Homo sapiens: one gene and its partner. The protein of the gene in region 1 purifies or fractionates together with the protein of each later gene. This does not show direct contact. Each region holds a gene or a part of one and is shown in the gene's direction. Other genes may lie near its edges.

Region 1 (3,754 bases):
TTCTGATGCTGGAGTTTGAAAAACTTACATAAATAGATTGATTGTTGAGAATGGGAGCATATTGACATAAGATTCATTCTGCCTCTTGTTAGCCATTTTATTTTAAAAATATTTCCTGAACACATTTTCAGTACCCTGTCCTGCGGCCATAGTATAAGTATCTAGAGAGATTCCAAACACAGGAAAGAGATTCAAATTGTCCCATGCTAGGGGAAAAAGAAATATCAGTCTAGGGCGGTGAGGGGCAGTCTTTAGAATTGTAATATCCTTTTATTGTGGAACAACCATGAGATTCATCCATGTTTCACAAAGCCAAACCTGGGAATAAGGCTTACCTTGGCCTCCTGAAGTGCTGGGATTACAGGCGTGTGCCACCGCGCTTGGCCCTAATTTTTTTATTTCAATAGCTTTTGGTGTACAAGCGGTTTTTGGCTACATGGATTAATTGTATAGTGGTGAAGTCTGAGATTTTAGTGCACCCATCACCCAAGTAGTGGACATTGTACCCAATGTGTAGTTTTTTATCCCTCACCCCTCTCCAAACCTCCCCACTTCTGAATCTCCAAAGTCCAGTATACCACTTTGTGTTTTGTTTTTTTTTTGGTTGTTGTTTTGTTTTTTTTTTTTGAGACGGAGTCTCATTCTGTTGCCCAGGCTGGAATGCAGTGGCACGATCTCGACTCACTGCAACCTCCGCCTCACGGGTTCAAGCAATTCTGCTGCCTCAGCCTCCTGAGTAGCTGGGATTACAGTCGCCCACCACCACGCCTGGCTCATTTTTGTATTTTCAGTAGATAGAGAGTTTCACCATGTTGGTCAGAGTGGTCTCGAACTCCTGACTTCGTGATCCACCCACCTCGGCCTCCCAGAGTGCTGGGATTACAGGTGTGAGCCACCGTGCCCGGCCAATATACCACTTTGTATACCTTTGTGTACCCATAGCTTAGCTCCCACTTATAAGTGAGAACGTATGGCATTTTGTTTTCCATTCCTGAGTTACTTCACTTAGAGGATAATGGCCTCCAGCTCCATCTAAGTTGCTGCAGAAGACATTATTTTATTATTTCTTATGGCTGAGTAGTGTTCTATGGTGTATATATTCCATATTTTCTTTATCTACTCATTGCTCGATGGGCACTTAGGTTGGTTCCATATCTTTGCAATTATGAATTATGAAACATGCGTGCAGGTATCTTTTTGATATAACGACTTCTTTTCCTTTGGGTAAACACCTCGTAGTGGGATTGCTGGATCAAATGGTAGATTTACTCTTAGTTCTTTGAGAAATCTCCATATGTTTTCCATAGAGGTTGTACTGATTTACATTCCCATCAGCAGTGTATAAGGATTCTCTTTTTACCACATCCGTGCCAACATCTATTGTCTTTTGACTTTTTAATAGTGGCCATTCTGGCTGGGGTGAGGTGGTAGCTCACCATTTTGACTTGCATTTCCCTGATGATTAGTGATTTTGAGCATTTTTTCATATGTTTGTTAGCCATTTGTATATCTTCTCAAATCCCATTGAGAAATGTCTATTCATGTCATTTGCCCACTTTTTGATGGGATTGTTTTTTTCTTTCTGATTTGTTTGAGCACCTTGTAGATTCTGGATATTAGTCCTTTGTTAGATACATAGTTTGCAAATACTTTCTCCCATTCCATGGGTTGTCTGTTTACTCTGATTATTTCTTTTGCTGTACGGAAGTTTTTAGTTTAATTAGATCCGATTTATTTATTTTTGTTATTGTTGCATTTACTTTTGGGATCTTAGTCATAAATTTTTTGCCTAGGCCGGGCACGGTGGCTCACGCCTGTAATCCCAGCACTTTGGGAGACCGAGGCAGGCAGATCACAAGGTCAAGAGATCGAGACCATCCTGGCCAACATGGTGAAACCCTGTCTCTAATAAAAATACACAAATTAGCTGGGCGTGGTGGCGCACACCTATAGTCCCAGCTACTCGGGAGGCTGAGACAGGAGAATCGCTTGAACCCAGGAGGCAGAGGTTGCAGTGAGCTGAAATCGCACCACTGCACTCTAGCCTGGGCAACAGAGCGAGACTCCATCTCAAAATAAAAATTGCCTAGGCCAATGTCTGGAAGAGTTTTTCCTAGGTTTTCTTTTAGAATTTTGAAGATTTCAAGTCTTATATCCATCTTGAGTTGATTTTTGTATAAGGTGAGAGATAGGGATCTAGTTTTATTCTTCTACAGGTGGCTAGCCAGTTTTCCCAGAACCATTTGTTACATAGGATGTCCTTTCCCCAATTTGTGTTGTTATATGCTTTGTCGAAGATCAGCTACAAACCTGGGAATAATTTTTTGAGGAAGGAAAGGCAATTCAGGTAGAAGGAGCTTCTGAGGAAAGACAGAAAGAAGAGTCAGAAGAGAGCTTGCATGATAGCTAAGAAATATCTTGCAAAAACAAAAGGGATTTTGTTAATGATGTACTGGAGGAAAAAGATATGAGAAAAACATAGGTGGAGTGATAGAAAGATAGGGAGTAATGTGAAATTTGCCAGGAAGCCACCAAAGATAGGATAGCAATGCTTGCAGCCATGGCCTAGGGGATGAAAATTCTGCATGTGGTAGCCAAAGCATCTGTTTAATGATGATAAGGAGAAGAGGCAACAATTGGATAAAGCTATAGAACGAGATCCCTTGGCTTGTTGGTGCTGTATGACAAGGGCTTCTAAGAAACTTTCATGAAAGTCAGGCATGGTGGCTCACACCTATAATCCCAGCGCTCTGAGAGGCCGATGTGGGAGGGTCACGTGTAGGCCAAGAGTTTGAGACCAGCCTGGGCAACATAGTGAGACTGTCTTTACAAATACATTTTTAAAAATTAGCCTGAAGTGGTAGATGCCTGTAATCTCAGCTACCAGGGGGCTGAGGTGGGAGGATTGCTTGAGCCTAGCAGTTGTTCAAGGTTACAGTGAGCTGTGATCATGCCACTGCACTCCAGCCTGGGTGACAGAGCAAGACCTTGTTGAGAAAGAGAGAGAGGAAGGAAGAGAAAGAGAGAGAGCAATTTGGGAGGCCGAGGCAGGCAGATCACATGAGGTCAGGAGTTCAAGACCATCCTGGCCAACATGACAAAATCCTGTTTCTACTAAAAATACAAAAATTAGCCACGTGTGATGGTGTGCGCCTGTAATCTCAGCTACTTGGGAGGCTGAGGCAGGAGAATCGCTTGAACCCAGGAGGCGGAGCTTGCAGTGAGCTGAGTGAGATCGTGCCACTGCACTCCAGCCTGGGTGACAGAGCGAGACTCCGTCTCAAAAAAAAAAAGAAAGAAAGAAAAAGTGTAATGAAGACAGTGATGATTTTGATTAGTGAAGACTGGCTTGGAAAGTTAATGATCTTCTCTAAAGTCAGTTAAGAAGTTTTCATCTCTGAAGAAAATAAGAGTCATTTCTGTTGCCTATGGCATGGACTGGGAGACAGCGGCAGAAGGGACGTGTTAGTGCCTGTTTCTGCTTGCCCTATTGAAATCACACCTGACCAGGGACTCAGCATACTTAGAGAGAGGAAGACCTTTTCCGGCCCAAAAGAGTACCTTCCACTTTGACAACTGAGGCCAGACAATATGAAGATTGTTTTTATTGTTAAATAACCTATATCAAAGAGAATCCACTGATAACAGCAATAATTAAAAACTTAAATGTATGCTATGGATAACCCTTTTTATATCCTCAAGGAGAAAACAAACCCTGCAAATATTTAACATTTATCAACTGCAGGTTTTTTTT
Region 2 (3,754 bases), about 27 Mb from region 1:
GTATGCATTGACGAGGAGTTTGTGACTGTTTTTCATTATATTCTTCTGATAAGTCAATTAATGGCATGTCATTTTACTTCTATAAGCTGATTTTCCACATTTGTATAAAGTGGAGGTTATGGGTATGGGTGTGAGAGACGGGAGTTTAGGTTGGAACAACTTCTAACTTCTCTTCCAGTTGTAAATACTGTATAACATAATGGAAGCAAAATGCTTCCATGGCTCCATAACCATGTCTATATTCATTTGTTCACCATTGACTTGTCTCTTACTGTGGGGATTTCCTGTTATATACATGCTGCACATAGATTTCCAAAAGATTCAGTTATAATCTAAAACATTTATAGTAATTTGCTTGGCTATTACACATTTAAAATTTATCGGAAGTGTCTTGATCAAACAAGAATTTAGGTTGGCTTTCAAAGAATGTGAACAAGGCTGAATATAAATAGGATTGGGGTCATTTATCAGTATCCATTCTTTTATTTCATTAGCTGAATTAATGTCTAAGCATTCAGTCCAAGAAATATATGTAGCTCTTCTATTTTATTAATGGTTTAGCCTTAATCCTATCTTCCTTTTAGTTTGCAATAAGTACAAAATAGTTACAAATTCTAGAAGATTGTTATTGTCTACCTCCTATGAAGTACTTAAGCAATACAATAAATAGAGCTGTCATTCTTTGTCTTCTACTTGCTCTTTTCTGGATATTTGGTTATATGACTGTTTTTTCCTTTACTACTGTCTAATCTAGTTCACAATGATTTTTGTGTTCTTAAAGAGAAAATGTCAATGACTTAAATTATATCACCATAACTTTTATAATCAGATGATCAGAGAATATAGGATTAAAGCTAATAAATGCAGGGTCCTTTGAAATCCTCACATAAAAGGAAACAGCAAAAGTACCAGCTTTATCTGGTATCTGACTGAGAAAATCAACCAATGTATATTGGTTTTGCACTTTACATGGTAATGTTGTCATTTATTTTTAGATATCCTTGGAACAGAAGATCTTATTGTGGAAGTGACTTCCAATGATGCTGTGAGATTTTATCCCTGGACCATTGATAATAAATACTATTCAGCAGACATCAATCTATGTGTGGTGCCAAACAAATTTCTTGTTACTGCAGAGATTGCAGAATCTGTCCAAGCATTTGTGGTTTACTTTGACAGCACACAAGTAAGACTTTGTTTTCTATGAAGGCTTGAATAAGAAATTATTGCATGCCTTCTTTTTTTCCCATTACATTTTGTCTGACTATCTCTTTTCTGTTTTTGTTTGTTTATATTTTTTGTTCCCTCTAGAAATCGGGCCTTGATAGTGTCTCCTCATGGCTTCCACTGGCAAAAGCATGGTTACCTGAGGTGATGATCTTGGTCTGCGATAGAGTGTCTGAAGATGGTAAGGCCTGTGGATGGGACAGTAGTTGGTACATGCATTTGCCATTCCTTGATAAACAGAGTACATCTGTTTCTTTAACTTAGGACATACATCCCATGTGACTTTATGGCTTTATGAAAATATTTTCAGCTATTTTTCTTTGGAATCTTGTAATACTTACTTTTTTTTTAAGAATGGATACTTCGGGGCTGAGAAGTCATTTTCTTTTTATTATTTTAGATGCCTTTAGAATAACATTGACATTAAGGGAAACACATTGAGATTTGTGAAGAATATTGCAGGAATAGTCATGTTTTATTTTCTTTTTACTTATGAAGATTCTTTTGCATATTATTTTAGGTATAAACCGACAAAAAGCTCAAGAATGGTGCATCAAACATGGCTTTGAATTGGTAGAACTTAGTCCAGAGGAGTTGCCTGAGGAGGATGGTAAGTGTTTATGTGTTAGGAGAAAATATGGCACTTAGATATGAGAGATTATTTTAATTCAGGGAAGAAGAATCACAGCAAAATTCAAGAAACTTTTTTCCCCAGCTGTTTCAAGGATTTAAGCAAAATCCATTGATGTAATCTTATAATCTTACACTTAGTGTAATAATTCATTTTTTTGGTTTTACCACCTGTTTTAGAACTTTTGAAAATGTGTGTTTTTCTTATGGATAAAGGTATAGGGCTGCTTTCTAAAATCTTTGTCATTTCCATAATCCTTTTTCCTTTCCCTACTGCTGAAGAAGGAGAGTTAGACCTTCGTAGTAGTTAAAGTTGATGTTTCTTATTTTGAATTCATAGTAACCTAAGGCTGAATTCCCAAGAATCGCAGGGGACATTTCAAATCCATTTGAATGTCTTTTGGACATTTGAAGCCAAAAGATAGACCCCAAATTTAATCCCCCACCTCCACCCCAGGTAGCTCTGCAATCGCTGTCCTCCGCTATTGCTGGACCTTCTATTTCTTCCCCTCTTCTACTCCCCTTCCCCATTTCTTTTCTCATCTTTTCTCCTTTGAAGTACACCTGTTTTGGTATCTACCAGGATAAGAGGGTTTTTGGTTCACCAAAACCTTATAATCTGGTACAAGAGATGAAACTTACAGATAATTGAATTACCAAGTGGAATGTCATAAGTATTATAGAAGAAATAGTAGTGCTGTGGTATTTTAGAGACCGGAGAGCTTATTTTTGTTTAAAAGTGCAGAGAACGTGTTGGCATTGTGACCTCTCACATGTCAGCTGCTCCATGGGGAAGAAGTTAGAAAAGGTCCTGGGCTTGTAGTGAGAGGACTGCTGGAGAGGTGGCATTGTGAATATGCCAGTTGTTCCAAAAGACATTCTGGGCAGGGGCAACCAACGTGAATTAAAGTACATAGATAAGACATAAGCAGTCATTTCAAGAAACTTGTATTTTTCTTCAAGGAATTAAGAAATATTTTTCTATATTCTGGTTTTATTTATAATTTTTCCAAAATGCTGTTACCTTTGAGAATAAAACCTGCTGGAGAAGAAGAGAACAAAACTGAAATAAAAACTCTGGTTTTTCTCCTTGCTCATTTTAAAGAGTGTTGAAAATTAGCATGTACATCTTTTTCTGTGTTTTTCTAGGTCCCTGAAACTTGTGCCCTGTTTTGTGTATGTGAGCCTGTGTGATTTCTGGCACTAGAATTTTCTCTTTCTCTTGTCCTTGGGAGTCAGTATTTGACTGTTATCATTTTGGAATCTCTGCTCCTTTATACTACTTTATTTCTCGTAGCCCTTTGTCTGAATAATGTTCTTGTATTCATTCAGCTTAATCTTAAAATGGGTTTTTTGATATGTCATCTTTAGGTAAGGTAATGAAAACCTTCCTAGACTTTTAAAATACAAATTATTCCTAAGCCATATTTCCTCATCTTTTACTTGCATGTATTATTCAAACATGAATATAGGACTTTATGCTAGTTTGTATTAATTTTCCTCTTACTGGTACTAGCTCTTCATTTCAGACCACATTTTTGGTTCCTGGTTATATCATCTAAAGTATTAGTTATTCTTTTGAGAATTAAGTCATTCACAATTAAGATAAACATGACTTTTAGGTCTTCATCCAGACATTGGTGGTGATAAACTTATCTTGGTAGAGTATTTTCTTTCTTTATTTTTATTTATTTATTTATTTATTTGAGACAGAGTCTCTCTCTGTTGCCCAGGCTGGAGTGCAGTGGCACGATCTCTGCTCACTGCAAGCTCCACCTCCTAGATTCACGCCATTCTCCTGCCTCAGCCTCCCAAGTAGCTGGGACTGCAGGCGCCCGCCACCACGCCTGGGTAATTTTTTTTTTTTTTTTTGTATTTTTAGTAGAGACGGTGTTTC

Evidence for each region. Proteins that work in one complex are often made in the same cells at the same time.
Region 2: the proteins of CCDC32 (region 1) and AAGAB purify together in Homo sapiens (affinity purification with mass spectrometry; 2 studies listed by BioGRID and IntAct, with this or other methods). This does not show direct contact.

The regions. Positions count from the first base shown.
Region 1 is NC_000015.10:40,558,346-40,562,099, reverse strand, and holds part of CCDC32 (coiled-coil domain-containing protein 32), read left to right. Parts: intron 1-3,754. UniProt on the Homo sapiens protein: Regulates clathrin-mediated endocytsois of cargos such as transferrin probably through the association and modulation of adaptor protein complex 2 (AP-2). Has a role in ciliogenesis. Required for proper cephalic and left/right axis development.
Region 2 is NC_000015.10:67,234,062-67,237,815, reverse strand, and holds part of AAGAB (alpha- and gamma-adaptin-binding protein p34), read left to right. Parts: intron 1-995; coding exon 996-1,186; intron 1,187-1,311; coding exon 1,312-1,408; intron 1,409-1,747; coding exon 1,748-1,837; intron 1,838-3,754. UniProt on the Homo sapiens protein: May be involved in endocytic recycling of growth factor receptors such as EGFR.